Regions from separate parts of the Homo sapiens genome. Here region 2 is linked to region 1. The links come from fine-mapping of genetic effects on gene expression. A gene starts in region 1. The other region holds a variant in brackets. All regions are shown on one strand. Distances are from middle to middle.

Region 1 (16,004 bases):
AGGTGAATGGAGAAACAAACTGTGGTGTATCCACACAAGGGAGCACTATCCAGCAACAGAGAAGAATGAACTGATACATGGAACACAGAGGAATCTCAAAATACTCAGGCTGAGCCAAGGAAGCCACACATAAAAGAGTACATACTGTATGAGTCCATTTACAGAAAGTTGTAGAACATGCAAACTGTAGTAACAGAAAGCAGACCAGTGGTTGTGGTTGGGGTGGAGAAGGTAGTCAGGGGGAATGATAAAGGGGCAGAGGGCAGTTCTGGGGGTGACAGATGTGTTCATCGCCTTTTTTTTTTTTTTTGAGGCAGAGTCTTGCTCTGTCTGTCACCCAGGCTGGAGAGCAGTGCCATAATCTTGGCTCACTGCAACTTCCACCTCCTGGGTTTAAGCGATCCTCCTGCTTCAGCTTCCCAAGTAGCTGGGATTACAAGCGTGCACCACCACGTCTGGCTAATTTTTGTATTTTTAGTAGAGATGGGGTTTCATCATGTTGGCCAGGCTGGTCTTGAACTCCTGACCTCAAGTGATCCACATGCCTCAGCCTCCAAAGTGCTGGGATTACAGGCGTGAGCCACCGCACCTGGACTTGTTCATGGTCTTGATTGTGGCAATGTTTTCACAGGTGTATTTATAGGTCAAATCTTACCAAATTGTACTCTTTCTATATGTCCACCAGTTTATTGCATATCAAGTATATCTCAATAAAGCTGTTTTCTTTTTTAAGGCAGGGAACCTGGAATAGCTGGGGTGTGGGGAACTCCAGGCAGTTGGGTTAGACTGAAACAAAGGGTCTGAAAGCTTAGAGGCCCAGGGAGAGTTGCGGCAAGGAGCTTGGATTTTATTCTGAGGCAATTGGGAGCCATTGAAGGCTTTTAAGCAGGATAATGGCTTTATCAGGTTTGTATGGGAAAATGATTTTTCTGGAGAGAGGCTGGTGAGGAGTCCAGGCACAGATGGGAGGACCTAGGAAAAGTGAGACAGAGAGGATTGATGGATTCAAAAGATGTTTAGGAGTCAGAATTGGCAGGACTTGGTCTCTCACTGGATATGGGGAAGGAAGACGGGAAGGAGTCAAAGGTGGTGATCAGGCTTCTGTATGGGTGACTAGGAACTGGCAGAACTGAGATGAGAACTCCTAAGGGGCTTGGCTTTGCCAGGTGCTACCCTCAGGATGCTGACTGCTGTCTCCAGGGCTTCTCCAGGTACTGACAGCAGCTTGGAGTTTCTCTGCTTTTGGGCTGTGGTGCTTCAGACCACCTACATGCTCTCCCTGGAGCCAGCCTGAGGGGCTTTGCCAATTCCTTCTGCTCCCTCTCAGTGGTGCTAAGATGCTAAAGTCATGCCCAGTTTCTGGCCCAGATCTGTCCTTGTTCTGACAGGAAGGCAGACAAATACTAAGCATCCAGGGAGAGGTATCATGGGAAGATTCCTGGACCAGGAGTGGGGAGCTCCGAGTTTGACTTTGACTCTTTCTCCTCTTATCTTCAGTTTCCTGTCTGTAAACAGAGGCAGATAATATCCTTGGGTCCCAGCCCTGGCTTTGCATTAGCATCATCTGAAGGTCTTTTAAAACTACTGATGCCACAGTGAGATTCCATTACACATCTACTAGAAAGGCTAAAATAAAAAGGTTGGCAGTATCAAATGCTGGTGAGAATTTGGAGCAACTGGAACTCTCATACACTGCTGGTGGGAGTAAAACTGGTGTACCAATCTGGAAAACAGTTTCACTGCTTCTTATAAAGCTAAATGTACTCTTACTATATAACCCAGCAACTCCACCCAATATCCAAGAGAAAAGAGTACAATTGTCCACCAAAGACTTGCATAAAAATGTTCATAGCAGCTTTATTCATAATAGCTCAAAACTGGAAATTCAAATGTCCGTCAACTGGAATATAGACAAATTGTGCTTTGTGTGCAAAAGAGAATATTACACAGCAATACAACACACATTGACGAGGATAAATTTTATAGACACAATGTTGAGCAAAAGAAGTTAGATCCAAAAGAGTATAATCCATACTGTGTAATGACAATTATATGAAGTTCAAGAACAGACAGAACTAATCTATGTAGCTAGAAATCAGAATAGTGGTTACCTCTGGCTTCCAGAGCTAGAGGAAGCCTTCTGGGGTGTTGAAATGTATCTTGCCCTGGATGATGGACACATAGTTTATTGAGCTTTATACTTAAGAGTTGTAGGCTTTACTATATTTAAGTTATACCTCAAAACAAAGCAAAAAGAAAAGAAGGAAAAAATAATAGTAATCCCAGTTTCTTGTGACCAGAGATTCAGATTGGGCTGGGGTAGGGTCTTAAGAATTTTTTTAAAGCACTCCCAGTAGTTCTAATGTGAAGCATATTCTAATGTGCGTGACACCCATGAGAGCAGTCCCTCTTAAAGACCTTCTTTCCCCAAGGATCCAGGACTTGGTGCAGGAGAAGTCTGCTGCTAGGCTTATCCTGGAATGTGCAGACTGCAGTTTCAGATAAGGAAATAGGTAGAAAGCTTTCTTTTATGTGAAGGAAGTTTTGCATGAAGTGCTGGTGCAGAGATGGCTGCTGGAGTCTCCAGCGTGGGAGCAGTCTGGCTCTGTCACCGTGCTGCCGCACTGGCTTCTCAGAGTCAGCCCCATGTGCACACCTGCACTGGCTGCCCTTGGCTGGGGACCAGGCTTGGCATCCCTTCTCAGCCCCTCGAAAGCCACGCCAAGGGGTCAGGAAAGCCGTGATTCGCATAACTTGCAATGGGACTGGGCAAATAATTGTGAATGGAATTCGTGCTTGTGACTTCTGGTTCTCACAGCTGCGGATGGGGGGGATCACCATGGGAATTCTGAGTATTGTTCAGCGCTGACTGCAGCTTCCATTGTTGGGCTCTGATTACAGCTTTTGTTTCACCATAAAGTACTGTTATTAAATGCCATTCAGGAACAAAGATGTACTTACATGCCAGGGGGTCAGGGAAGGCACGCTATTTCTAAAGCTGCCCCTGCTGTTAGTCTAAGGGCAGGTAGGTTGTAGGGGAAGGAGGGCAAGCTGGAGGTTTTAGATGAAAGTGAAATGTTTCTGAAGGAGCCAGACAAGATGGGAAATGATGATGTCATCACAGCCCTGCTCTAGTCTTCCCACGTCAGTTCATTTATACTTATTTATTTTTGGGCCAGGAGAGGGTGGGGGTCAGGTGCACAACCAAACATCTACTGCACATTAGAATCATTGGGAGTGCTTTTCAAAAGTCTTAGATTTGTGGGGAAACAAATTCAAGTGCCCCCTTAGCTTGGCGGCCTGAGCCCTTCCAAGTCAGGTCTCTGCTACGTCCCCAGCACCATATCCACACGGCCCTGTTCCCCCATTGCACCAAATTCCACGAGATCCTACACCACAATCCCATCCCAGTCACCCTCATATGAACAAGGACCACAGCAGTCAAAGTACTTTTAGAACCTACCCACTGCCCATGTAAGAGACTCTGAATGTATTATCGCCTTGGTCAGGTGGGCTCAGGGAATCAGGCCGAACTAAATCATAGAAATGCTGACACTGATGGAGCCACTAATACCTGCCAGACCTTTGTTGCATTATTTTATTTAGGACTAATGATGGGGCTGTGAAGTGGGAACTATTGCCAGAGAAATGAGGTAACATGTTTGAGGTCACCCAGCTAGTCAGGGCAGATGGACTCCAGGGCCCCAGCTTCTTACTTTCCTTTCCTGGGCTGGGGCCCATGACATCCAGACTCTCCTGGTGGAAGCAGTGACTTCTGTGCTTCTCTTCCTTTTTTTTTTTTTTTTTTTTTTTTTTTTTTGAGACGAAGTCTCACTCTGTTGCCCAGGCTGGAGTGCTGCAGTGAGGCGATCTCGGCTCACTGCAACCTCCGCCTCCCAGGTTCAAACGATTCTCTTGCTTCAGCCTCCTGAGTAGCTGGGATTACAGGTGCCCGCCACCACACCCAGCTAATTTTTATATTTTTAGTAGAGATGGGGTTTCATCATATTGGCCAGGCTGGTCTTGAACTCCTGACCTTGTGATCCGCCTGCATCTCGCTCTCAAAGTGCTGGAATTACAGGCGTGAGCCACTGTGCCCTGTCTGGTAAGGGGAAGGGGTCTGAGGGTACAATTCCCCCAGGCCAAGGAGCTTGTGAAGCCCAAGATGGACTTGTTCCCAGATCCTCTCTCCCAGCTTTGTTTGCAAGGAGTCTTCACCTTCTAGAATGCTCCCTACTTCAGTGCTGCAATTAGCAACCCAAGTGTGGCCCTGGATGATCATCTTGATTCAGAAAATCTTGTTTTTCAAGTTTTCACACCACATTGGAGCAAGAGTCCGTATGTTTGGATGACAGCAAGCATCCTGTGCTCTGCAATTTTAGGGTTTACCACCATCCCAGGCCTGCCACATGTGGTCAGGGTAATTAATGTATGACCTAACTAGGGTGTAGATGCAGCTGGAACCCACCAGACCCCCAGAGATCATAGGGTTGCTGGGGACCTTTAGAACTCCAGTGGCTTTCAGCAACTTTAGATCCTGTCCAACCCAGATGTTCAGTGTTGGGCTCCCTTCCTTGTCTGATAATCCTAAGGCAGGAAAGACCTAGTTCTGCTCTCTACAAGTCTTGGAGGCAAGCATCTCCCCGGATGCCCAGTTTTTTGTTTTTTGTTTTTTGTTTTTTTTCCTGTGTGGGCCTGGAATTTGGGCTGGTTGCTGACTTTTTCAGAAATCCTATTCTTCCACCTTGGTAAGCATAAAATGTGGACAATCTTTCGTGGCACCTTCCTGAAGGAGGATTGTTCTGCCCCAGCCCTGGGATGCAAGAATTAGCTCCAGAAGGAGACTCCAGTCACCTGATTGGTAATCTGGGAAGGTCACTTAATCTGTGCCTGCTTGGGGTGATTACTGAGAATCATGCTTCCCCTCACTTGGTCATTGCCAGTTGTGAGGCAGGGTCAGAAAGCCAGCTCCGACTCTTCACCCACAGAAGCAACTCCACTGACTCGCTGCCTGGAGTTCTTGTGCCATTTTTACACTAAAAAATAGGGAAAAGCCGTTTTTAACTCTCTGCTACCCAGTTTCTGGAGGGGACACAAAAAGAACAAAGCCGGGTTCAGAGAGTGTTCAGTTCATGTTTAATTCTTGTTCTATCTTGGTTCTGATTTCTGGTTAGAACAGAGGTTTGCTTCTGGAGGTACTCCTTCTGCTTGGCTTCTGATGCTGGCTCTGTCCATAAAGGGGACTGTGGCATTCATCATTCAACACATACTTCTGTTGTAGGCACTAAGGATACAAGCAGGAACAAAACATAAAATCCCTGGCCACGTGGAGGTTACAGTTTAGAGGGATATGCAGAAAAAAAAATATATATGCACATATATAATATGTACAAAAGTGACCATTGCTAAGGGGAAAAAGATAATGCAGGAAATGCTGCAGACATCAAATATTAGAGAGGTGACTAGCATTCAGGAGCTTTCTGCGTGCCTCTGTACGCTGCTTTTTGTGTTGTCAGAGGGGCTGACGTCTGTCTGGAAGCCCCAGAGCCCAGCACTAAGCATATGGAAGGGGCCCAAGAGCTATTTTTGAATGAAACATCAACGTACTTCACACGTGCAAAGCATGATGATAATGATGACAGTGATACTTTAAAGGTAAACTGCAGGCTGGGGCAGTGGCTCACACCTGTAATCCCAGAACTTTGGGAGGCTGAGGAGGGGGGTAGATCACTTGAGGTCAGGAGTTCGAGATCAGCCTGACCAACATGGAGAAACCCTGACTCTACTAAAAATACAAAAATTAGCCTGTCATGGTGGCAGGCACCTGTAATCCCAGCTACTTGGGAGGCTGAGGCAGGAGAATCACTTGAATTCAGAGGCAGCGGTTGCAGTGAGCTGGGATTGTGCCACCACACTCCAGCCTGGGCGACAGAGCGAGACTCTGTCCCTTCCGGCAGAAAAAAAAAAAAAAGTAAACAGCTAAACTATAGATCCTTGAATTCAGACTCCTCCTTTTTCTTCAGATGAAAAGTAGCCATGGAATATTCCAGCATTCCTCAGTGCCTTCAGTGAGTCCTGAGTGTTCTTGGTTTGCTCCCAGACTGTAATTTCCCTGTACTATTTTTTTTTTAAATAGCACTGAAAGCACTGTTATGTAATAAACCTCTGCATCCAAAAAAAAAGAGGCTGGAAGAAAAGCAGAGAGCTTTTTTTTTTTGTCTCTGTATTTATTGGCTGATCGGGAGCTATGAAGTTCTGGTTATACTGCAACCTCAAAGCAGTCCTGGGATTATCTTGTTGTGTGTCCTTGGGCAAACTGAGTTACTTTTCTGGCTTTCTTTACTGTATGTAAATATGGCTCTCAATGATAAACAGTTTTGGGGACTTGTTATGCAAAAAGAACAAAGGAGCAATTTTTTTTTCTTGAGTCCCGTTCTGTCCCCCAGGCTGGAGTAGAGTGGCACGATCTCAGCTCACTGCAACCTCCATCACGTGGGTTCAGTTGATTCTCCTGCCTCAGCCTCCCGAGTAGCTGGGACTACAGGTGCCCACCACCATGCCTGGCTAAGTAGAGGGGGTTTCACCATGTTGGCCAGGCTGGTCTCAAACTCCTGACCTCAAGTGATCCGCCCACCTTGGCCTCCCAAAGTGCTGGGATTACAAGCAGGAGCCATCACATTGGCCAAAGGAACAATTTCAAACCACTCATCAATGATGTCAAACAACATTTAGGAGAGAGATCCGGCGGGTCCAGCCTGGAGAGGGTGAGAGGCTCTTGGCCTAAGTGTTCTATTCTCAGGACCAGTATTTTCAGATCAAATAAAAGATGTGAATTTGACTTTGAATTTCAAATAAACAAATTTCCCATCTGGAATCTTCTAGGATTCTAGCACTGACAAGCTAGAGACTCCTTCCAGACCTTCTAGCCAGGGAAGGCAAACTCAAATGCCTACAGGGATAAGACAGGTGACACCTAGATTTTTATTTTTAAATGTTAACCACACATTCAGTTAAATCAACAAAAACCCACTGTGTGGACCAAAGGAAACAATCTGCTCTGGCTACTTTATAAACTATAGTGAGGCCAAACCCTTTCAACCATTATACAGATGAGGACCCCAAAAGGGACAGATGTCAGCAAGGCTGCATAGCTAAGGTTTCTCAAAAGATAACCAAAATATCACGTTGGATGAAAGGCAATTGAAAATGCTAAGTCTCAAAGAGGCAGTCAGAGAGCCGTTCTATGCAGTTTGCAAGATGTTTTCACCTCCATCAATTTATCAGACTCTGAGAACATTCTGCAAGGCAGGCAGGGTGGATGACACTCATTTACAGTCGAGGTCACTGAGGGTCAGAAGGGCAAAGTGTCACTCTCTGCATAAAGTCACATAGGTAAGTCTACACAGGAAAATCTAGGGCTGTTCTTCACTACACCTCTGATTCAGATAACAGGTAGGCTTCCTCTAAGATTTTAATAAAGACAAACTCAAAATCCTGTATGATGCCCCATGAAGAGAAACAAGTCAGGAGGCCAGGCTGAGCCCCCAGACTTCTAACCCAGTTCGCAAATAAAGAAAGTGGCAAAGTAGATAGATTCCAGCCTGTCACCAGGGTTGTGTCTTCTGTCCTAGCAGCTGTACAGCTTGTCTTACCACTGGACATTTGTTTCATGTACATTTTCACATAGGAAGGATATTCTAAAAGATGTTGATAAAGATTTTTTAAAGGGTTTGAAGGGGATAGGATGTGATCTAAGGTTGTGCAAGGAGAGGAAAGGAAGAAGCACACAAAAAGAACAAATATTTATTAAGAGCCTAGAGTGGCATGCGCTGTGAAAGGCGTGGCATGTAATTCTTTCCCAGTTCTTTGCCTGTCTGAATATTTCTCATTCTTCAGGTTTCAGCTCAGATATCACATCCTCAGAGAACTTGCCTTGCCACTCTCTCTGAAGAGCCTCCCCCCGTCCCCGCCACCGCTACTGTCTCTTGAACTTTCTCAGTCTGGCCATTCTATTAAAATCTGGAACGATTTTGCTAGTTTGCGGACGAGTTTCCCCCAAGCTGCAGGCTCCATAAGGGCAGTGACAGTGTCTCTTTCTCAGATGAATGCCGGGTTGCCTATCGCGTACTTGGCACACAGTTAAGTGCTCGAGAAATTGCTAAACACTCAACGAATATTTACCAGAATACATATTTATGCTCCACCGTTGCTGAAAGAATTTCGACTAACCCTTCTTTAAGTCTCTCTTACCCTCCTGTACTATTAACACCATTGTAAGTAGGCAGTGGAGCTACATTTGCAGGGAGAGAGAAGAGCGAAAAATTGGCGCGCAGAGCTGTAAAGCGTTTTTCTCCAGGTCACACCGCAGCCTGTAAATTTGTGACACTTGGACCGATTATGGGACAGCTTGCAAACAAATTATCTGCAAACTAACGAAGCCTATTTTTAAAGATCCCTGTTCCTCGCAGCTCTAGGCGATGACATCAGAGAACCCGGAGTTCTACCTCCGAGCCAAGCCCAGTGGTGGTCAAAAACTACGAATACCAGGAAGCACCGCGGCGCGGCGGCCCAGAGCTCCGCGCGCAGGCCTCCCCGGCGCGCCGAGGCCGCCGCCGCTGGAACCAGGAAGACGCCAGAAACTCGGCCCGCCACGCCGCAGGGACCCGCGCGGGGCCTGCCGGGACTCGTAGTCTCTGCGGGCTGGGAGCGCCCGCTCCGGAATCTCAGCCGCCGTCTGAGGGCTGAGGCAGCGTGGGGACGCGTGCGCAGTGCGCGGGCTGGCCGTCGCGGACGCCGCTCCGGGCAGCCGAGCCTCTGTGGGAGCCGGGGCCGCGGCGGCGCGGGTGCTCCGGGCCGAGGCCGCGGTAAAGTTTAGCTTGAAGAACGCGGCCGCGCTGGAGCAGGGGTGGTGGACGGGGCCAGGCGCGAGGTGGCGGCGGCTGCGGGGCTGCCGGGCTGCTGGAGCGCGGTTCCCGCTGTGGCGAGCGGGGAGGCGTCCGCAGAGGGGCGGTGGGTGCTGGTGAGTGCGGAGCCGGCGCCCCCTCTGCGCACGTCCGCGCCACGCGCCACAGCACCTGGAGGCCGCCGGGCCGGCTCACCTGCCCTGGCTTGGGGCAGCGGGAGGGGGCGGCGTCTTCTTCCCGTGGGTCCCCGATTGTTTTCCCGACGTCAGCCCTCAGCGGCGCCCGGCGGGGGAGGGCGGGAGGCCCGCGGCGGTCGCGGGGCCGACGAGCTCCTCGGCGTCTCCGCCCCCCGAGAAATCCCGCTCGGGGCGCGGTGCGCGCAGCTGCCCGGGGATTCCCGGTGGCGCCGGTCGGAGCGCCTCCCTCCAGGGCTGTGCCCGCGGGGCGCGCGTCCCCGGGCATCCTTTCCTGGTGTTTAATGCATTTTGGCTTCAGGACTTGCCGAGGCCGAAGCCGGCTCCGCCCTGGGCCCTGAAGTCGGGCGGTGTCCGCGATTTACCTCCGCACCTTCGGGGCAGGTGGCCAGAGGCAGCGTTGAAAGCGACTTGCCCAAGGTCACGCAGGTGGCACCGGGGAGGCGACCAGACCCAGGTCTTTCGACGCCGAGGCCAGCTGCCAACCGCAGAGCTTTGGGGCCGTCTTGAGTGGTTTGTGGTTTGTTTCAGATGCTTTCTATTGACCTCCTGGAAAGAGGGGAAAGTGTGTCATAATGAAAGCGGTCCTGTTGCTTATAGTGTTTACCGCCTTTGGTAGAATTCTGGTGAGGCTGTGCCCCCGCGCAGAGCATCTACCGTGGTCTGGGCGTATAAATAATGAAACTCCTTTGCTCTCTGGGGGCAGTACAAGAAGAGGTTCAAGGAACAAATAAATATCCAGGCAGTTTCTGCGTTTTCCTCGTCTGTTTGTTTCACCTTCCAATTCTGCAGTACTGGTTTTCTTATTTTACAATTGATCGTTGTTTTAATAAGATTTTCTTTGTTTTAATGAAGTCATTGCCCCTTGTGAGTTAGTTTTCTAAATAGAAAATCTTATTTCCTGTGTGTTTAATGACTGGAACAAATAGTGCACTATGAGGTTTACACCATTGTCTTTCATCTTAGAACTCCTGATCAATCTGCTTTATTTTCCCAAGTACTCAGCTTGCATACTTTCTATGTTAATTTGATGCCACTGAAACCATTTACAGCAAAGTTTGGGTAAGAGTTATGTGATTGTTTTGTGAAACTGTGTTTTTCTTCACAATCTGAAGAACTTGAAGACCCGTTATATTAAAATAATAAGATTTATTCTGATCAAAATACCTGTTTACTTTTCATGCTCTTAATTTTTCCTGTTGACACACTTGTGGCAAAAGAAATATTTCCCCTAGTGGAGTTAAAGTATTTTTTATCTTGGCCAATTTTCCCAAGGAAAATTGCATTTTAGAGTACTGATACATTTAAAAAAGAGTATTTAAGTTTGACAGAATTTGAATTAATAAAGTAGTTAATTTATTTTATACTGCCGTAAACCTTACACTGTATCTACTGACAGTTTTCTCTTGTAGCGTATACCTGTATCAAGATATATGGCTGTGAATTTAGTGACATTAAGAAGATATATATATATATATATATATATATATATATAATATAAATATATGTGTATACACACCGCGCGGGCGCGCGCAGAGCTTCCAATCTTTATCTTGTTAATTAGTATTTTCATTGTCGCTTTGGGAGGGGGGAAAGTAGCAGGTTTGTATCTTTTTTTCTCCCCAGTTTTAGCAGTGTAACAAAATAGGAAAGATGGTGTGTAAAATTGAGTTTGTCATAGACTAGGAGAGACAGTGAAACAGGATAAGTATACAATTGTGAGGAAACTGCCATGAGTTCATAAGCCGGAAGGACCTTTTTAGAAGTGTTTAAGGATGTTAAGAATAGCATTGGATTCTTTTCTTTAAAAGTCATTCAAGTATCGTTTGCTAACATATAGGATATGACAATATTGACCACTCCTAGGAAGATACTTGGGAAAGGTGGAAACATTTTACATTTTTATGGGGACTTCCCCCCACAAAAAACATTTAATGGAGATTTAAACAAAGTGGCTTTTTGACTTAAGCCTGGAAGTTCTTTATTATTATTAGTCATGCTGCAAATCCCGAAGTTATTTTAATTGTGTGATAATTTGTAACCCAGAATGAAATCTAATAAATAGTTTATTAATATAATTTAAGTCATACTTTGACATTGACATATTGCTTGATGTCAAGTCATTATTGTTTAAATAACTTATTTGAGAATGGGGAAGATAGTTTTCTGAATATAGTGTAGTAATTATTTGTGACAATAGTAACATTGCTTTTATTAGAAAATTTTGGGTTGATATAACTAACTGCCTTAAAGTATTTCCTATTTGATTCCAACTGTGAGCTGAGGTAATATGCAAATAATTACTTTTCTCATGCTGGAGCAGTTTACTTTTGTTAATATTAAAATTTAAATTTCAAGATTAAAAAATCTTGTTTTAGATCTGCAATGATACAATAAAATGACTTCAATAGGAGTTAAATATTAAGATTTGGTTTTAGGTTTTTTGACCATTTGTGAGTACACATCCAGCATTTAAGAATTTATTGACATGGTGTCTGAAAGGAATGCTTTCAGAAAGGGCAGAAAACTTGGTAGCTTTAGATGATTGTTTATAATGCTTAATTATTTTTAGAAACATAAAAATATGGGATGTTTTTATGTAAACATAAAGCATCCTGTTATTTGTTATAGCACTAGAACTCTCTTACACTTACTGAGCAATATTAAACCATTTGACCCTAAGTAACTTTTTTTCTTGTGGGTACTGTCTAATAAGGGATATGTGAGTTTGTGATTCCTAGAAGATGCTTAAGCAAACATATGTTTGCTATTTATTTTAGTAAGCCTTTTAATTAGTTGAATTGATAATATTCAGGAAGATAGGGTTTTTGGGATTTTATAAGCTTTCTTTGAACTGGAATTTCTGTTGGATATAAAAGAAAATTAGTCATTTAAGATTTTTTTAAGTTAAATAAGTTTTAGAGCAAAATATTGTTTCCTACATGGAACTCTTACCAGGCTTGTCAGTCTGATAGCTTTATTCTCCAGAAAGTTGTGGTTTTTAGCCCTTTAGGCAGCCTAGCCTTTTATGGTTTAACCATTGAACTCTAGATTCTGGATTGAATTTAACCTCTTGAAGGAAAAGACGATCACAGGCACTAGAATTGGAAGTGATGTCAGAGGGCTTCTAATGTAGCATCTTACCCGGTACAGTAAATCCCTCCTGAGAATTTCCATGTCAGGTGTTCCCTCCCATTATTAAGGATGAGAATGCTATTGCATATGTCATCAGGTTATTCAGCAGTCCAAGCTTACTGAGAACAAACACAAGAGTTTTAATGAGTTTTAATTTTCACTATTCACTGCCTTTAACTGTATTTTGTAGGCTCTTTCCCACCCCCCTGTCCCCCACCCCCCATAACATCATGGGTAAATGATAGCTTTTCTGTCATTTACAGTTATCAAAAAGCTCTAGGCTGGGCTCAGTGGCTCATGCCTGTAATCCCAGCACTTCAGAAAGCCGAGGTGGGAGGATAGCTTGAGCCCAGGAGTTTGAGACCAGCCTGGGCAACATGACGAAACCTTGTCTCTACAGAAAATAGAAAAATCAGCCGGGCGTGGTGGCATGTGCCTGTAGTCCCAGCTAGTTGGGAGGCTGTTGTAGGAGGATCCCTTGAGCCTGGGAGGCAGAGGTTCCAGTGAACAGAGACTGTGCTGTGGCACTCCAGCCTGGGTGACAGGAGAGTGAGACCCTGTCTCCAAAAAAAAAAAAAAAACAGAAAAACAAAAACAAAAAATTGCAGTCTATTCCAGTTTGAACATTCAATCTCATATATATTCAATTTAAAGGTTTTTTTTCCCTTCCTTACCCTGTGGTCAGGCCACTTACTTACTGAAGCACTTGGGGTATGGACGGCTTGTGGTAAGCTCCTGGGATACTTCTTTCCTTTCCCTCTTAAGGGATCTATTTGGATACAAATGTGTCAAGAAGAGAAGTAGAAAAAGACAAGTGTTTGTTATCTGGTGCTATTAGAGTCCTCTCTTGATTAACAGTGGCAGGCCATTGCAGTCTACTAATAGGCAACCAAACTGGCATTTTTGGTGAGATCTTGCAGGGAGACTCCTGCTGCACAGTTTCTGGGTATGAAATTTTCTGTAGCTAAACCTTTTCCAACCTACACACCCATCTGCTTGCTCCCATCCTGTCAGTTTACCCACTGGTTACGTGAATGTGTGTGAGTCGGGGTGGAGATCTTTTCTCTCTGCAGCGAGATATTTTGATAATGGCAAAACAACTTCAATCCAGGTACGCTGTGGTTTCTATTCAACCCACTGGAAACTCACTTCCTTGTGATGTCGAATAGTGGCATACAGACTACTTAAGTCTGCCTTCTTTCTGTGCCCTGCCATTTCTCATCAATTCTCTTTGTCCCCCTTTTCAAGTAGACACATGGGGTCAGTCACTCAGTCTGCTGCATAAGCAGATGTGGAACTGGAGAATGGGATGCAAGTCTGTTCTAGGCTCCTCTGATCTTCATGAGTGATTTCTGTTAGAGGCCCCTGCCACTGTTTTGGTGAAGACCTCCTTCTTTTCCCTGCGTTCTCCCTGAAGACTTACAGTTCTTTCCCTCTCTTCTGTCAACTGCTCTTGCAGAGTGGAAGGATGGTGCTGATTAGGGTGCCAGAGCCATGCCTGACTCTACAGATATTTGATCCTCTATGTCTATATATCCTCAGCTTTGTGTTTGTCAGTGATTGTGGGGCAACAGGACTAGTCCCACTCGACATGTTTTAACAAATAATAGTGAAGTCTTGTGGGCCTGTTGAGGTCTCACTGTACAGAATTTAATTTTTCTTTGCTTTTTCTTATATCACTCAGGCTGTTTCTGTGTTTTGCCTTATTTTTTGGCTTCCTGGTTCCTGACTGATGAGGTGTTAACTGTAATTATGTTAATTTATGACTGATTTGTAAGATCTAACTATACCTTAGAGTATGAGTAAAGCTGAAGGAGAAATTTGGGTTGGGAGGCATGTTAATAATATAATTGTGTCTGGTTTTGCCTCATGTAAGTTTCACTAAAAATATAAATTTAAGTGGAAATACAGTATTTGAAACTTTTTCCTTCCATTATTTAAATAAATCAGTTAAATCTGGTAAATGATTCTTGTCTGATGAGGAAGAAACAACTTTCTATCTGGAAACTTAACGTTAATCTTTGATGCAGTAATTATGGGTTACTTCATCCGTCGTTCAACAAATAGTTACTGAGGGTCTTGCATGTGACAGCCACTGTGTTAGGCATTGGAGAAACAACAGTAAATAACAAATCCCTGCTGTCATGGAGCCTACATTACAGTGTGGGGAAACAGACAAGAATCAGGTAAATAAGTAAACTGTATCATTCATTAGATAATCAATAAATGCTAAGGAGAAGAATAACATGGGGAACCAAGGTGGAAGTAGCAAAACGGTTTGGAGGATTTGCAATTTTAGATAAGATCTAAAAGGCAGTGTTCACTGAGAACGTGACTTTGAGTTACAAGTCCCCGAGTGGGAATCTTGTCTGGTGAGTCCAGCGGCCAAATGAATGAGTAAGGTGGGTATTGGGATGGGGTAACAGGGCAGACGAGGCTTAGTGGTCTTTATGAGGGCTTTGGTTTTTAGGTTTTTACTTTGAGTGAGATGGGATCCCATTGAAACAGGTTGTCAACCTTGGCCGAACATTAGAATGATTGGGGAAGCTTTAAAAAAGTACTGATGCCTGGATCCCATCCCAGAATTTCTGATTTAATTGGTCGGCGGTGGTGGGGGAGGTGGTGTTTTAACGTAGGCATCAGGAATTTTTAAAATTCCCAGGTAATTCTGATAAGTGGCCAAGGTTGACATCTATTGCACTGAAGAGTTTTGAGCAGAGTGAGGTATTACATAGTATTGAGGAGTGTGACTCTAGAGCCAGACTCCTCCAGTTTGACTCCTGGCACTGCCACTCCCAAGCATGTGACCTTGAGCAAGTGCCTTATTAGTTTTCTCATCTGTAAAATTGTTATAAGGATTAAATAAACTAATATTTAGGTATTTAGAAAAGTGCTTTGTGAGTAGTAATATGTGTACGTGTTTATTGAGTGAACACTTGAATAAATGTTTTAATGGGATCACTTTGACTGCCATGTTGAGAATAGATTGAAGTGGGGTAAGGGCCAGATCCAGGAGAGGCCCTTGGCAATAATCCAGGTGGGAGGTCATGGTCACTTGGACCAGAGAGGTAGCAAGTGGTGAGAAGTAGGATTCTGGTTATAATTTGAAGATGGAGATAACAGGATTTGCTGATGGATTGGACATGGGGTAGGATATGGTTTGGATTTGTGTCCCCACCCAAATCTCATGTCGAATTGTAATCCCCAGTGTTGGAGGAGGCGCCTGTTGGGAGGCGGTTGGTTCATGGGACAGACATCCCTACTTTCTGTTCTCATGATAGTGAGTGAGTTCTCCTGAGATCTGGTTGTTTAAAAGTGTGTACCTCTCTCTTCTCTCTTTCTTCCTCCTGCTCCTGCGATGTAAGAGGTAACTCCTCCCTCTTTGCCTTCCACCATGATTGTAAGTTTCTTGAGGCGTCCCCAGTCATGCCTCCTGTACAGACTGTGGAACTGTGAGCTAATTAAACCTCTTTTCTTTGTAAATTACCCAGCCTCAGGTAGTTCTTTATAGCAATGCAAGAACGGACTACCACAGGGTGAGAAAAACTTAAGTATGACTTCAAGATACTTTTCCTGAACAACTGGAAGAAGGGAGTGGCCCTTTACTGAGCTAGGGAAGGCTGGATCAGGATTCTGAGGGGAATATCTGGAGCTCAGTTTGTTAAGTTTGAGATAGCTTGTTAGATAAGTGGAACCGTAGAATAGGCAGTTGTATACATGGGTCTGGAGGTCAACAGTGTTCAAGGCTGGAGATAACAGTCTGGAAGTCATC
Region 2 (16,004 bases), 33 kb after region 1:
CCTATGGGTTTGTGTGTGTGTGTGTGTGTGTGTGTGTGCATGTGTGTTACATAAAAGTAATAAAAGTTTGTTGATTACTTATATATGAGATGCAAAAGGTAGCAACAGTATTATTAAATAATATGGGTACTGTTATGCATATACTGAGATCTGTTGGCAAAGGTAGATCACTTCAACAGAAGACCAATTTACAAATGTGCCTCTGTTTAGAAGATAGATGTTATATAAATAAAATACTTTATATTAGTATTACAGTAGAGGTATTCATTCTCATTGACCAAAAAGAAAAGAAAAGAGCCCTTGGACAATAAAGATTACACATTTAAAAGGAAACATTTTTCTGTTAAGATCATACTATGTAAATTTACATACGACAAATATTGTATGGAAGCTCTTTCTTGAAATCAGTAAAGTAGGTGGGGTAACTGGCCAGCTGCTTTCCTCTCCTCCATTGCTCTTCTTTTAAAATAGAACCTTTTTTCTGTGCAGTTCTGTAACTTTCATCTTGTCCTCCTGCTTCCTGAAGTTTAAATTGTGCAGTTTGTACTCTACTTTGGACGTACCACTTTTTTTCCAAAAAAAAATTTATTGTTCCAAAAATTTATTTCTGGAACAAACTTTTGTGTGACTCAGAACTGTGAGTTTGTAGTTGGGATCAATGAGGAACCCCAGGCTTAGAATTCCTTTTGAAGGTGCAAAACGGATGCTACAATTATAAGTTCTATCACTGGACAACAGCATGGCAATAGTTGTGAATGAGCTTCTGGGAGGTACTTGATTTAAAGGGATAGCAGCAACCAAATGCAGCTAGTTGCCTCATCTTCTAAAATGAACCATGAGCTGCATTTAATAAAGTGATCCCATTATCCTAGGGCATTCTCCTGTACAAGAGAGGATCCAGTCCCATTTTGATCTCCTCATAGCAGATTAATGTCTTAATCTTAATTATTAAGATTAAGATTAATTCAATTAAATGCCTGGATTTGTGGACTTTATTTTTATTTTTATTTTTATTTTTTGAGATGAAGTCTCACTGTCTCCCAGGCTGGAGTGCAGTGGCGCGATCTCGGCTCACTGCAAGCTCCGTCCCCTGGGTTCACGCCATTCTCCTGCCTCAGCCTCCTGAGTAGCTGGGACTACAGGCGCCCGCCACCATGCCCAGCTAATTTTTTTTTGTATTTTTAGTAGAGACGGGGTTTCACCGTGTTGGCCAGGATGGTCTTGATCTCCTGACCTCGTGATCCGCCCGCCTTGGCCTCTCAAAGTGCTGGGATTACAGGCGTGAGCCACTGTGCCCAGCCTAGATTTGTGGACTTTAAATACACAGTCTCCTCTTTACCCAGCCCCATTTTTGCTTAAAAATCATAGCTAATTTAGAAATATGTTATTTGGGAAGAATGCATAGTTCTTGTAGAATATTCATTGAGGATATTTTGAAAATTATTTTAAACTAAAAATACTTGTGTGTATGACATAAAGCCTAATGGTTTACTTTCAGCTTCTCTCTGACATTTCTTTGAAGAGAAAACAAGTTGTTCAAAGAAAATATGGAAGTATTATTTGTTACCTCTTACAGTTGGGAACTGCATCCTATGTATTTAAATTTGCCATCCTCTTTTAGTTGTCTTTAATTTTAAGTCTGTTTACTAAATGTGTATGATTATTGGGGAATCATACATGTGGAAGTTTACATAGTATATAAGGTTGGTTTTAGGATTATATGGAGAAGTGAGGAACCCGTCTCTATTTTTCTTTTTAGGTTAGCGATGCTACTAAGCTAAGGCCAAAGGCGGAGTTCTGTTTTGGTAAGTAGCCATGTTATATATATTTTAAATAGACTGATATAATTGTATCATATTGTAAAAGAAAACTGTTGCAGAAAACCACACAAAACCTAGGGCTTAATGAATTATTCTAAAGTGAATTCCCTTGTAACTGCTATACAGATAAGGAAATAACATTTTGCACCCCCTCTCCCCTAACCCTGAAGCCTCTTTCCTGTGTGCGGTCCTAGTTACAAACATCTCCTTCTACCCATATGTAACTGTTATTTTGGCATTTATAATGATCACCTCCAGTGAGATTTCAGGGAATTTTAAACTTTCTACGTCATGTTATTCTATATTAAACATATAAATAATTAAAAGGATTTGGTCTTTAGCTTTTGGGTAGTGAGAAATGCTCAGTTTGGGGTAGGAGTAGTTGAGGGTATTGGATTAACTTACCCAGCAAATGTTTAGTATATGCCAGGCACTGTGCTTGGCACTGGAGCTGTAAGATGAATAAGAAACAGTTGCTGCCCTTAAGGCTGGTTGGCTCATAAATAAAAAATACCAGGCAATTAATATTGCAGTTGTCACAACCTGTAGATAAAGGGATATGCAGTCTATTAAAGCACAAAGAATGACCTTCAAATCTTTATTGGGGAGCTCAGGAGTCGGGGAGCCTCACTGGAGGAGGAGATGCTTACGTTGGTGGCCAGCTAGCCTCCTGCTTATATCCTTTACCACTGCAGAGAAAAGGCAGGAGGACTACATGCAGAGGCTTGTGGGGAGAAGAGCGTGGTGTCTCTGGAGCTGAACACTCTGAAGCTAGAGGGTATGATAAATGGCTAGAGAGTAAAAAGGCAGGCAGAAGCCAGGGTGCTGTGTTTTGACGAGCAATAGGTTTTATTACTTTGAACAAAGGAGAAGAAAAAGAGAGCATCTGGAAAGCAGACATAAGGTGAAGGAGGGTTTTGTTTGTTTGTTTGTTTTTTTGTATGCATAGGAAAGTTTTGATATAGGTAGACTGGGTAAGTGTCTTTTGAACTACTGTACTTATGTAAGGTCCTGAGTTAGGGTGGTGGCAATAGGAGAAGGAGGAAGGGTGAAAAGAAGGAAAAGTGCAGGGGCTTGGTGGATATGGGGGAATTGGAGGGAAGAGAGAGGTAGCAGGGAAGTTTGCTTCAAGTAAAGAAATGAGAAATCAGGGAGAGCTGGTTACATAGGGTAAAATGTTTGCTATGGAGTTGAAATGGTGGGGAACTTCCAAATGGAAATGTTCTGTTGACAGTAATCGAGGACTGGATGGAGCTTTAGGGTCAAGAATGGAGAAATTCGGAGTCTGTTGAAAAGTGGGTGGTAGTCGAAGCTAGGAGAATTGATACCCTCTCAGAGAGTATGTTAGTGGACATGAGTGACTGAAGGAACGAATATTTGGAGTGGTCAACTAACATCAAAAGAGACTTTCACATTAAAGTGAGAGATACTTTTGGGAGTAGAATTGAAGTTCTTTGCTCTCTTTTGCTTGAAAAGGGCAGATTTCTTTAGGCAGTAGTTAGGAATAGCATCTTGATATGAGCAAGATGAAACGTGGCTGTCAAGGGAATCCTCTAAAATGCTTTTATCTCACTATGAAGCTATTTTTAAAAGTTACATGTTTATTACTAATTATAATTTTGGTTACGAAACAGGAAAATGCCTCAGAGCCTTGTAATTGAATGGGTATTGCAAGTCAAATAACTGAGAACTTTGTATTTTAGAATGTATAATGCACATACTTTTGACAACCCTTTTTTTTCTAAAATCTCAAACTTACAGGAATAGTAACATACAGTAATAGACTTGACATTCATAGTTATTGGAGTATTTAGAATGGGTGATTTTAGTTGGAATCAAAAACTAAGATTAGTCGTTCATTGGTCAGGCAATAGTTTATTAGTCCTCTACTGTTAGTGGGAGTAAAGATTCATGAAATGCTTACCTTCAGAGAGAGAAGCACTGACTTCTAAAATAGAACCACAACTTTCATTCAAAGTGGCAACATATCTTCTCTCAGATTGTCCCAAACCAGTGAGAACAAGAAACGTGCAAGCCATTTTTGATGGAGGGAGCAGAGTATCTGTAACCCTCAGTGTATAAAGTTGGAAAGTAGATAGAGGAATGGTAGATAATTTAGCAGAGTGGAGGAAGAGGCCAATGAAAAGCTAACCATTTAAGTGTTCTGCCCCCACCCCAACTCTAGATAGGCTTAGGTATAGGAGATACATTTTCTGGGGAAGCAACAGTGAGGAAGGACCAAAAACAGGGACTTTGTTTGCATATCTGTATCAGAAACAACCTCTGTTCCCTACCTCCAATCGGGCAGACACCCTTCTTCTGTCCCAGCAGGTAATGGGATGTGTGGTGTCTCCAGAAATAGAATCAGTGAGGCTGTATATTTAGGGGCACTAGTCCCAGAGAACGAAAGGAATGAGGCACGAAACTGAAAATAGGAAGATATCTTAAATGAAAGTCTGCACAATCAGTGCAACCCCAGCCCCAGAGCACTGGGCAGCCAGGTTTAGGTGAGTAAGATCTGACTACCCTAGAGAAAAGATCCATAGATACTGACTGACATCTGGGCATTTCTACTAGAAGAGCTTGCCATAGTTGACTAGTAAGGTCCACAATCAACAGCCCTACGACAATGCAAGAGAGCTTTTCATCAGTCTTTTTAGCACTTTCTTTTAAAATATGAATAGACAGCCCAGGATTACTGAACATTTGATGAGAGCGGATTATCAAACAGGAGAAGGAACATGAGACAATGCAAAACTCATTTTGCATTTCTTTGAAAAAGTCAAAGAAATCTGAAAGTACAACAAAGGTAAAGATAGATAATGGAAAAGAGATAAAAACCATCAAGGAAGTCCAACATCTGATAGAGACTGAGAGGACAGAGGAAAGTACAGAATAGAGAAAACAGAGTGGGGAAAATTGACAAAGAATATGATAAAATACCTTAGAACCTCTTGATCCAAAACCGTATATTCATAACCAGTTGATCTCAGGTTGTGAGATGATTTTTGTTTGCAGTTAAGCTAATGTTTATGCTTCAAGTTTTATCCATTTTATGTATTCATTCTAATCATAAAGATTTGAAGTTAAATACTCAAGTGGAAAAGATAGGAAGGATACAAGCTTCTAGGGATGCATGTATTATTCACAATGAAACCCTTGCTTTAGGGTTTTTATGGCAACTTAGCAGTGTCAGAGTTTTTTTTTTTTTATTGTTCAAAGATTTTATTTCTTTCCCTTTCTCCCCTCACCACCAATATTGCTAATACACCACATTTCAGTAACTTGCTTTCCCCTTTTTTTTTCTTTTGAGATGGAGCCTCACTCCCCCAGGCCGGAATGCAATGGTGTAATCTTGGCTCACTGCAACCTCCACCTCCTGGGTTCAAGCGATTCTCCTGCCTTAGCCGCCCAAGTAGCTGGGATTACAGGTGCCCACCACCACGCCTGGCTAATTTTTGTATTTTGAGTAGAGACAGGGTTTCACCATGTTGGCCAGGCTTGTCTCGAACCCCTGACCTCAAGTGACTGGCCTGCCTTGGCCTCCCAAAATGCTGGGATTACAGGCGTGAGCCACTGTGCCCTGCTTTACATTTTTTATAGTGCTTCCTTACTCCTTAGAAATCTCCAGATGATGGCAGTGAAGAATATTCTATACCAAGCACTGTGTTAGTTTCTTTACATATATGATCGTCACCTCTTAAGGAGGTGGAATGAGTGACATTCCCATTTCACAGATGAGGAGTATCGGGCTCAGAGAAATTAAATAATGTTTAAAAGATGATATTGCTTGTAAGTGCATAAGCTAGTCAGGTTGGATTGATTCCAGACTGATTTTTTTTTTCTAGATCATACCTATATATCTACGTCTTGCCATGAAGTAATTCTTAAAGTACATGAGATTTTATTCAGATTGCAAGGTATACTAGGGGTCTTTTTTAGATATATATTTGCATCTCTTCCTTCCCTTAGAAAAGATCCTTATATATTTATTCAAAAGTATATGTATTAAGCATTTACTGTGTACCAAGTGTAGTATATTAGTAAGTGCATAGATTTTTAAATTCTTCAGATATTCTGGGCAGATGCCCAAAATAACATTGAGGGGAAGAAGCCATTATGAATGAGGAGAGCTCTGCTTCAGCCTAAGCTGAAAAAAGATTATAAAAGGAAGCCTTACCGATGGCTAGAAATTAAAAACAAGTTATTTATTGATAGATATAGCATCCTAGTGAATTATGGATTTATCTTAATACATATTTATGGCAGTTATAACTTTTCCAGTCTCTAGAAAGATGTACAAGAACAGATTTCCAGTGTGTTAAATTTCTTTTAAGGTTATAGACTGGTTGTTTTGTAGCACTTTACAAGATAGGCTTTGACTTCCTTTCTGAGACCTTCATCTCAATTCAAGGAAGCTGTAGTTTAGAGTGTTTTGGTCTCAGTCCCAATTTCAAAATCTTGTGTGTTTTCCTTGAGAGTTTGCATTTCCCCTTCTCAGTCACATTGAACTGTGTGCTAGTATATCTTTTAAAATTTTGGTGGAGACGTTTGGAAGTTATTTTTATATTTGAACAATTGCAACAGTATAACTATTCAGATACTTAGCTCCTAGAATAATATTTATGCTTTTAAAAATAAATGCAGATGGTGTATAATAAATAGCTTTAATTCAAGAGTGGACTATGATAGTTTATAGACAACTGTATGTGCACATGTGCTTTGCTTGATAAAAGTACCTAGTCCCTAAAGGGGAATATAGAAACTAAATTGCATAAAAGTTCCAAATGTATTAAGATTCAAAATATAAAGGAAATTCATAAGGTCTAGAAAAATAGATCTTAAGTTAGGGAGATTTTCTAGATGATATGAAATCTGGATGCATTTATAGAAAAGATTCATAGTATATTTCTGTCTGATCAAAAATACTGTTAAAGTAAAACAGACTGGGTAAAGTATTGGTAATAAAGCAGAAAAGATTAATAAAGAAGTTGCTATAAATTAATAATGAATTCAGGAGAAACGTGGGTAAAGAAAGTAAACAAAACTTACAAAATAAATGCAGATGGCCAATAAACTTACAAAACTAATTTATCTCAATAACCAAAGAAATTAAAATTTGAACAAGGTACAATTATTTACCAATTAGGTTGTTAAAGAGTATTAGCCAGGAAAACAGCACACTAGATATTTCAAACCTAAGGGATTTGTTATGGGGAATTGGTTACCCAAATATTGGAAGGCTGAAAGAACATGAAGGGAATGCTGAAGTAACCCAGGAATTAGACGCATGAAGCAACTACTACTCAAGGGCTAGAGAGACAAAAGAGAAGGGGTAGTAGTATTACTATAACCTAGGGCAGTGGAGTAGAAGCCACCATGGAGCTATTAGTATCCAAGGGGACTCTGCAAGGCTGGCATAGGGGGCAGGAAAAGGCTCCTAACAGTAGCTAGTTGTGTGCTGCTGTTGGAGAGAGGTCAACAACAGCAGGAGTCAAGGAGAGTCTCCTCTTTCCTTCTCCCCTCTCCCACCTTACAGTCTCTCATCAGTACCTCCCAGTGGCAGAGAATGGCCTCAGATGGGGTCTAGGAAATATTGTTTGCAGACTACCAGCCCCAGTGCCACAGAGCCTTTGAAAACTAGAAACTAGAGGTATCCACAGGTGCTAACAACCAGTTCTGGTGAGGGGTATTCGATGAAATAAAATGTGTATGTGGTTGGTAGGAATGTGAATGGATTCAACTTTGTGGGAAGATGATTTGGAAATACCTATAAAAAGTTTAAATGTCAATTGTCTTTGACCCAACAAATCTATGTCAAGAAATTTATCACCCAGAAATGCTAGCCAAGTGTGGAGAAATATATGTATATGATGTTTCATTGTGATATTTTATATAATTTCAAAAACCGGAAATAGCCTAAGTGTCTATCATTAGGGGATTGACTAAATGTATTGTGGTGTATCCATTTAATAAACAAAATGGCCATAACAAAATAAGAGTTTTACCTGTGTTATTGTGTGATAAAAGCTGTATTACATGTGGTCTGATATATTTTGTCAAATCCACGAGAGTCACGGTGTTGAACTTAGCAAGGTTTTTCAGCTACTGCAAACATAAATTTAGAGGTAATAAGTACAATATTTGGTGTGTTATTTTTTTCTGTCAACAGTTATGAATGCAGGAATGAGGAAGTACTTCCTACAAGCCAATGATCAGCAGGACCTAGTGGAATGGGTAAATGTGTTAAACAAAGCTATAAAAATTACAGTAAGTATATGTATTTTTTTGAAAAACGTTCGATGTCTGGAATTAATCTTTTCATTTTGAAAATACACCTACCAAATGTTCCCAGCTTACCAACAGGTTTCATACTCAAGCTTTGTTTAAAAGACAGGTGTTCAGAATGTGAATATGTTTTCTTGTACTTGGTGACTGTTGGCACTTTAATCAGCCCATGATTGTCTTTTTAACTTATGCACCTAATAAGGAGATATATTACTGCAGATCTTAATCACTTCTTGCAACGTTTCTAGGAGAAAATGCGCTTAGCACGTAGAGTTCTACCGGGAGGATATATATTTTTCTTCCAATATAGTGTAAGAGATTTCCTGTCACCTACCTGGGGAATAGGCACTTCTCTCTTCTAAGCCATGACTGGGATTGGGGTCAGATAGGGAAAGAGTTGAAAACAGGAGCAGGACAAGGGGAGATGAAGGCTGAAAAATGAGGGTTAGGGATAGGAATAGTGTCTGAAGGGTTGCGGCAGCCAGAGGGTCCTGTCCATGTGACCCTTGAGAAGTTTGTCTCAGGCTCTAAACTTCTTCCCATGTCTGATTTTTTTCCTTGCATTCCAGGGCTTGGTACCCTTGCCCTCCTTTCCCATGCTACAATTTCTTGCTTCTAATGTGTGCTTCTTTTCTTTTTTGGTTTCCTGATGAATATTTATTGATTATTAACACTGTGCCAGATCTTAGACCGAAGGTTTTACTTAAATGAACTGGAAAAGTGAGGCTTAGAAAGATTAATCTACCAGTGTTATAGCTGGTAGATTATGGAGCTGGAAGCCCAGTCCAGTTTTTTG[G/A]CCTCTGGAGCCCGAACTCTGAAGTGCAGTGCCTTACTGCTTCCTGAACAAGAACAGCCCTCTCCTTACTCTTTTGTTCCTAAAGCCAACAACAACCTTTACTGAGAGAGTTTGCTAGTGATGATGAGCAGCACGTAGATAGGCTCTATTTTGATTATACCTTGCCTCACCTTTCCCTTTACACTTTTGTAGAGAAATACATAGCAGGCCTGCCTGGAAAATGTTGGGAAGGAGTTCTTGTGTTGTGAGATTTGTGTCAATTGCGTTTTTGTTTTTGTTTTTTTTAAAGAAAGTGCAGTTATATACTGACCCTAAGTGACTTATTCTCAAAGAACATGTGCCCTGAAAGTCAGCATATGTTAGTCACTCATTAGTTTCCATCTAAAATGAATAATTTCCTATTTATATCACAACACAATAAAGAGTCAATATAGTTAAAGCTGTTCTCAGAGTTTAGTCGAATCTTTTTGTTTTGCTCTAGAACAGCTTGTTACCACATGACAGAAAACGCCTACGCACCGCATCTGATCTGTACATGAAGCAGAAGTTATTTTAGGTTTGTGCAGTGTCAGGAAAGCAATTTTTTAACCTGATTCAGACATACATATTCTTAAAAGCTTTTAGCTAATCATTTTAACTCTTCTAATAAATATTCCCTGCTTGAAAAATTTCTTTAGAAAGATAATATCTCGTAACTGTACTAAATTCATGTTTTACCATTTGCAATAACAAGCAGCACTGGTTTCTTAGTGCTTTAAGAGAAAAAGTAGTGAATGGTCTCAGGCTTTTTACCATTTTGGGGGGTCTTGAATTGCTATGTCTGATTTATCAATGGTATGAAACAGTCTTATACAAATGACACTGGTAAGCTTTTCAGCATGAAGGAAAAACAGGTTAGAGATTCTAAATAGAATTCTAAAAAGACTTCTAAGTAGCTTTTGTGGTCTTGCAATTTTATTTTACCTGTTGAAATTTTTATAGTTTTTAAGATAAATTTGTTGGTAAATGATTTTAATGTTTTTATAATTCACATTTGGAAAATATAAATACATAGAAGTTATAGAAATCCTTATTACTTAATAAAGTGGTTATAACTGCATTAAAGTGAGTATAGATTTGATAGTACTTATTAAAAATAAACTTTTGATAGACACACATTTAACTCATAGGATAGCAATGAAATAATTTCCTATGCTTTAATAAGATGCTTTATGTTAATTTTATTCCTTAAAAATATCTTACCAGTTTCATGTGCATTTTATACATTTAAGTGTATTAAAGTGTGGAATCTCCAATTTGTTATATTTTCCTGTGAACATTGCTGATGATTTACATGTAGATTATTTGAAAACTTAAAATGTACATTTTGATGTATGTACTTAATACATAAATCTTTCTATGGGATCACTCTCATTTTGGTCAACTCTAATTTAGTGGTCTGCTAAGTACTGTGTGATATATAAATTTTAAAATTTTGGAAATCCAAAATTAGAGTTTGGAAGTGTGTGGTTTCAAAATAGAGGTGGTTAGAGGGCAATGGGTAAGGGAATGATGATTTTTAAACTATTTCCTAGTTATAATATCTTGCCATTTTAATCCATTATCCTCTAACGCTATAGTCTGTGACTTTCCTTACTTGAGTCTAGGTGGGTGCCACTTGAAATTCTTTTCCCTTTACAGTTGCTTTTCAACTTATGATGGGGTTACATCCTTATAAACCTATTGTAAGTCAAAAACACAAGTTGAAAATCCATTTAATACCCCAACAAACCCACTTGTAAAGTTGAAAAATTGAACCATTGTAAGTCCTGGACCATCTGTATTAAACATACGCACAAAAAGGAAAAGAGCAACAGTGGGAGAATCAGCCCCGAAGGGGGAGTATCAATGACTGGAGTGAGGAAAATCAAATTTTAAAGTATGCTTTCCACTGTTCATTTATAGTGGAAATATATATAGTGGAAATATAGTGGAAACAACATAAATATGGTGGTTTCTGTTCCCTTATTGATTATTAAGGAATGTCTAAGATATATATGGTTTATTCCTGAACAGAGATCCATTATTTTTAAACATGTCTTTTTTAAAATTTAAAAATAAATGTTCGATTTGAATCTAAAAATTAGTACTTTGAATTTGTGGCAGAAACTCCACAAGTTTGATATATTTTTAATAGAAACTGGAAACAAGTAGATGTAGAATTCTCAGAAAGATTGTAAGACCCAGGAGTTTGTGTCTGCACGTTTTTATCCTCAGTGAATTGAACATTATGACAATTTCATTCTTTCTTTTTATCCTTTTTTTTTTTTTTGAGACAGAGTCTCGCTGTGTTGCCCAGGCTGGAGTACAGTGGTGCTATCCCAGCTCACTGCAGCCTCCGCCACCGGGGTTCAAGTGATTCTTGAGCCCTCAGCCTCCTAAGTAGCTGGGATTACAGGTGTGTGCCACCACAGCCAGCTAATTTTTGTACTTTTAGTAGAGACTGGGTTTCGCCATGTTGTCCAGGTTGGTTTTAAAACTCCTGGCCTCAAGTGATCCGCCCAGCTTGGCCTCCCAAAGTGCTGGGATTACAGGCGTGAGCCACCGCGCCTAGCCCAACATTATATTTTCATTCTTGGTGAATTGAATATCAACTTTCCCTTTAACTTTTGAGAAACCTGCAGCGTTTTTATGTATTTCACTCATAAATACTTAAATCTGTCTTGTTCATCTTTTTATTCTCTAGTTATTTTTACCTTTTCTTTTCCTACTATTAGAATTTCCTACTACTAGGATCACATGCAAATGCCTGCCAAGATTACATTCAGATCTCCTACAAAAAATGCTGGGACATAAAAAAGGATAGAAAGCCAAGGAAAGGGAGAGAGGCAGTAGACAAAGAAACCAAGTGGATTCAGTGTCTGACATGTGCCAACTGCCCAGTGAGATCACTTTTCTGATTTTCATTGGACAGTTGGATGGTTTGGGGCAGGGGTGTGTCCTGAAAATGTCTATCTTAATGGCTGAATTTAGACCAAGTTTTACAGAGGTACATATTGTTTTTAGAGGAGTTATCCATGTTCATGGGTATTTTGCTTGAACTTTTCTTGTTCTTAGGGAATAAGATGATTACAAGTTAGATAATTTTTATAGTAAAATGCAGTTCTAAGTTAACTACTAGCATTTGATTTTATTATAAAGACAAATTAGAAGCAGTGAGCTTAACAGCATAAGCAAGGACTTTTAATATACTGTAATTTAAGAAAAATGGAAAAACCAATATAAATTTCGGTATTTTTTAGAATGATTTTAAAGGTTTTTCCTAATAATTCCCAGGTCTGACTAAACTTCTTGAGAGAATAACTGCTAGTTTTCTTATGGGTCACCTCTTAGCAGCACCTCTCATTTTATCTAGTTGAATAGATTGTTTTCTCTCTGGTTTCAGGTTCTCTTAATGCTAGTTGCTGTTCTTCTCAATGAGATAACTGGGCCATATTTTCTCTGTCAGAATAATTGAAATATATGGTGCTATTCATTAGAAAATATAATGGGCTTCCCTAGCAAATCATTCCAGGGTATACTATCCTAATTTTATTTGACAAGGAAAATTCTCTTCATTATTTTATTGTCTTTAAAAAGCACTCCAAAGTGTGCAAGTTCTTAGAAGAATTCAAGAGGTATTCAGGATTCTCTTCTCTTTCCTGTTTTCTCTCTCTTTTGTTTCTGCGGATGAGGGCATTGTAGTATGAATACGAACCAGAGGCTGGAGGATTGGGCCTGGGGCCTGAGAGAAACCTCTTCAAGGGAGGCAGGTGGAGAAGGAAGGGAGAGGGAGTTTTAGAAGTCACTTAAGAGACAAGTCATTTATTATATCCATAAATTACATTTGTGTGGATTGGGACTTACTGTAGCTCAGCATCCTTTCATATACACATGGACCATGTTTGCTCAATATTTTGCAGAAAGCTGCTTTGCAAATCCTTATCTGCATTGTATACCCTCTTTTCTACAAATCTGGTGGGAGTAGCATCGTATGGAAGAAGAGCACAGGTTTTAGAGCAGTGTTTCTCAAAGTGTGGTTTATGAAACTCCTGCCTCAAAAATGTCTGGTGTTCTTGCTTAAAGTGCAGGTTTTTGGGCTGCACTATAGATATGTTGAGTCAGAATTTCTGGGTTCGAAGCAGGGGAATCTGAAGTTTTAAATAATGTTCCTGGGTGATACTTTATGCACTCTAAAGTTTGAGAAATCACACTGCTTTGGAATCACACTAATAAACGGTTTGAGCCTTTGAATACAATGTGAGTGGTGTCCTGTAGTTCTACCAGTACTCTATTAACAGGAATTAGCTATATGACAAGCAAACTATTTAAGTTAAATGTTTCTACACCACTACTTCAGTGATTGTCAGTAGTATTTGTCATAGTGTTTCTGAAAGACTGCAAGGTTCCACGTGCCCTTTAAATCATTGGAGAAGACTAAATCATGTTCAACATTATAATTGATGCTGAGCAGATTTTATTACATTTTATTCACAGCCTTAAAAATGTATAATTTAAATACAGACTATGTGCTAAACAGTCTACAGATAGAAATAATGATTAACTGAGTACCTTATTTACTGAATAGATCACATAAGAAAAGCAAAAATATATGTTAAAAATTTATGATACCTCTGATTCTTTCATCCACTTTAGTGAGGTGTTAATGTGAGATTCTGCTGTTACCACAGTCATTGTTTTCCTGTACTTGTGAACGATTTATCATTGATCCAAGTATTGGAATTCCTTCTTTAAATTTCTAATGAAAAGTTTTGTTTTGAAACTTCTGATTTGTTTTAAGAATTTTGCTATTCTTTTTTCTGCTGACTTTGGATTCATCCATTGAGTCTTTCAACATTTATTGAATACACTATGGTTTTGGTAATAGTCTCTGTCTTGAAGCCAGGAAAGACTGAATATGCCACAATCCCAGAATCATGGGTAGGAATGGAGAAAGGGAAGAAAACAGCAAAGAGCTGTAAGCCAATAGTAAGTGTGCCAATAAACAGGGTCTAGAGCACAGCAGTTGGGCTTGGAAGAGTTACACACACTTGGCTAGAATGTATTATAGTCAGGATCTGAATCTATATTCCCTAATGCCCCTGAGCCTATTTCCTTACCTCTTAGGTGGGGGTAGAGCCCCTATGCATAGGGTAGACAGGAGTAGTAAAGGAGAAAAATGTGTGAACTAGTACCTGCCCGAGTAAGCACTCATTACGTGATAGCTATATTATAAAATATTATTCTAACAGAAAAATTAGTGTGATAACTTAAGGAGTACATACATGGACTATAATTTTTATATGTATCTGTCAACCGTATGCAAACGGATGAATAATTAGAAATTCTGCGAGAAAACAGGTTCACATGTATAATGCTGGTTGCAAAATGATTCATTTTATTTACTATTTCAGGTACCAAAGCAGTCAGACTCACAGCCTAATTCTGATAACCTAAGTCGCCATGGTGAATGTGGGAAAAAGCAAGTGTCTTACAGAACTGATATTGTTGGTGGCGTACCCATCATTACTCCCACTCAGGTAATTAAGTAACTCTTCTATTGTGTGAGGGTCTAATTATTGTATATTGATTTTTATATTATTAAAACTAAAACAGTGCATCTTTGCTTAATTGGTATAATATACAATTACTATAAAATATTTTTGTTTATTTCAAAAGTATTTATTATAAAAAATTTGGAAATTACATAACATTTAAAACTTCTCATGATTTCTCTGAGCCTTTCTTCATGTACTTTTCACCTCAGAAATGGAGATATGAGTTGTATATTACATTTTGTAAACAGATTTTTTCACTTGTATCATGAACATTTTCCAAGTCATCAGAAATCCTTTTATATCATTTTTAATGAGTGCATAGTAGTTCTTCCATGGATTTACCATAAATTACAAATCCTCTATTGGACAAATAGAGTTCCTTTTCCTTTTTGTTTCTTTTACTTTATAAACAATGCTATGATGAATATTCTTAAAGGAGAAATTCCTAGAAATAAAATTGCTGAGTCAAGAGTTTGCAAGTAGTAATTTTTAAAATCTATTTTTTCTACAACCTGGCCTAAGTGAGCTAAACAGAAGACTGGAATTTTAACTAAGTTATATCTCAGAAGTACTAATATGCTAAATTAAGTCTTTATTTGAGTTTTAGGAAAAATATAAATTTACATACAATTTTTGATGAAATTAAAACTCTTGTCTGAGCTTGAATTTCTTGTTTTGCTATTGAAAAGGATGAATTTGTAATGGATATTAAGTTACTAGTAGTTGAGAAACCAAGAATTTTAAAGTAATCAATTGGTATTGCCAAGCTTGGGTATTTTCATTACCAGTGTGCCTTTTGAACTCAAAAGACTTTGACACTTTATAAATCTTTTAAATCAAATTGTATCATTCCCCACATTTTTCAGGTCTTTTGCTACGGGAGGGTGATTAGTGGGATTAGAAATCTTACAACATTAATTAATTAATTAACTATTGAGTGCTTTCTTTATGCTTGGCAAAGGGTATGTTAATGAACAGAAATTCCCTGCTGTCATAGAGCATACATTTTCCACCAAAGTTGGATAAAAAAATAAGCTAGGATTGTGTGTTTACTTTTTCCAAAAGTAATGATTTTAAACTGTTAACCTTCTGGTTACTATGTACCTAGATTAAGCTTCTTTCACTGGTATTATGACCTATGTTGACATAAGGGGTAAGACTATTTTCCTGTAGTTGTGTTAAGACACTGTATTAGTTTGTATCTGTGGCTGTTTTAATTTTGTCTAGAGTTAAGATTTTGTTGCATTGTAATTTTGGTATAGATATTTCAGTAGTTTCTAGGATTTTATGGAGGGTATAATTTTATTGCATCATTTATTTTGTAGTATAGTTTTAAAAATTATAAAATAATATATGTCTATCATAAAAGGCAAAAATTGGTAAATTGGACCTCATCAAAATAAAAAATACTTGCTCTATGAAAGACCTTCTTAAGAGGATGAAAAGAAAAGCTACAAACTGGGAGAAAATATTTGCAAACCACATGTCCAACAAAGGACTTTTATCTAGAACATAGAAAGAACT

Alleles and levels. Positions count from the first base shown, and alleles are read on the strand shown. Sizes are in standard deviations (SD) of each study's normalised expression.
For the expression in atrial appendage of the gene that starts at base 8,766 in region 1, A is the high allele of the variant in region 2 and G is the other (small effect, 0.27 SD a copy in GTEx).

The links. PIP is the estimated chance that this variant, and not a neighbour inherited with it, causes the effect.
Region 2: its variant is fine-mapped to the expression of PLEKHA1 in atrial appendage (GTEx, PIP 0.91).

The regions. Positions count from the first base shown.
Region 1 is chr10:122,365,943-122,381,946 of GRCh38, forward strand. PLEKHA1 (pleckstrin homology domain containing A1) reads left to right here and starts at 8,766. Exons shown (of 12, transcript NM_001001974.4): 1 at 8,766-8,864. RefSeq lists an enhancer at 2,676-3,200 and silencers at 8,474-8,623, 8,764-8,873, 8,914-8,983, 9,004-9,163, 9,174-9,373.
Region 2 is chr10:122,398,584-122,414,587 of GRCh38, forward strand. PLEKHA1 (pleckstrin homology domain containing A1) reads left to right here. Exons shown (of 12, transcript NM_001001974.4): 4 at 1,760-1,805; 5 at 7,993-8,090; 6 at 14,337-14,462. Among named protein-coding and RNA genes, the nearest start is that of MIR3941, 10 kb to the right of the region's middle. The variant G/A (reference allele first, on the strand shown) is at 8,905.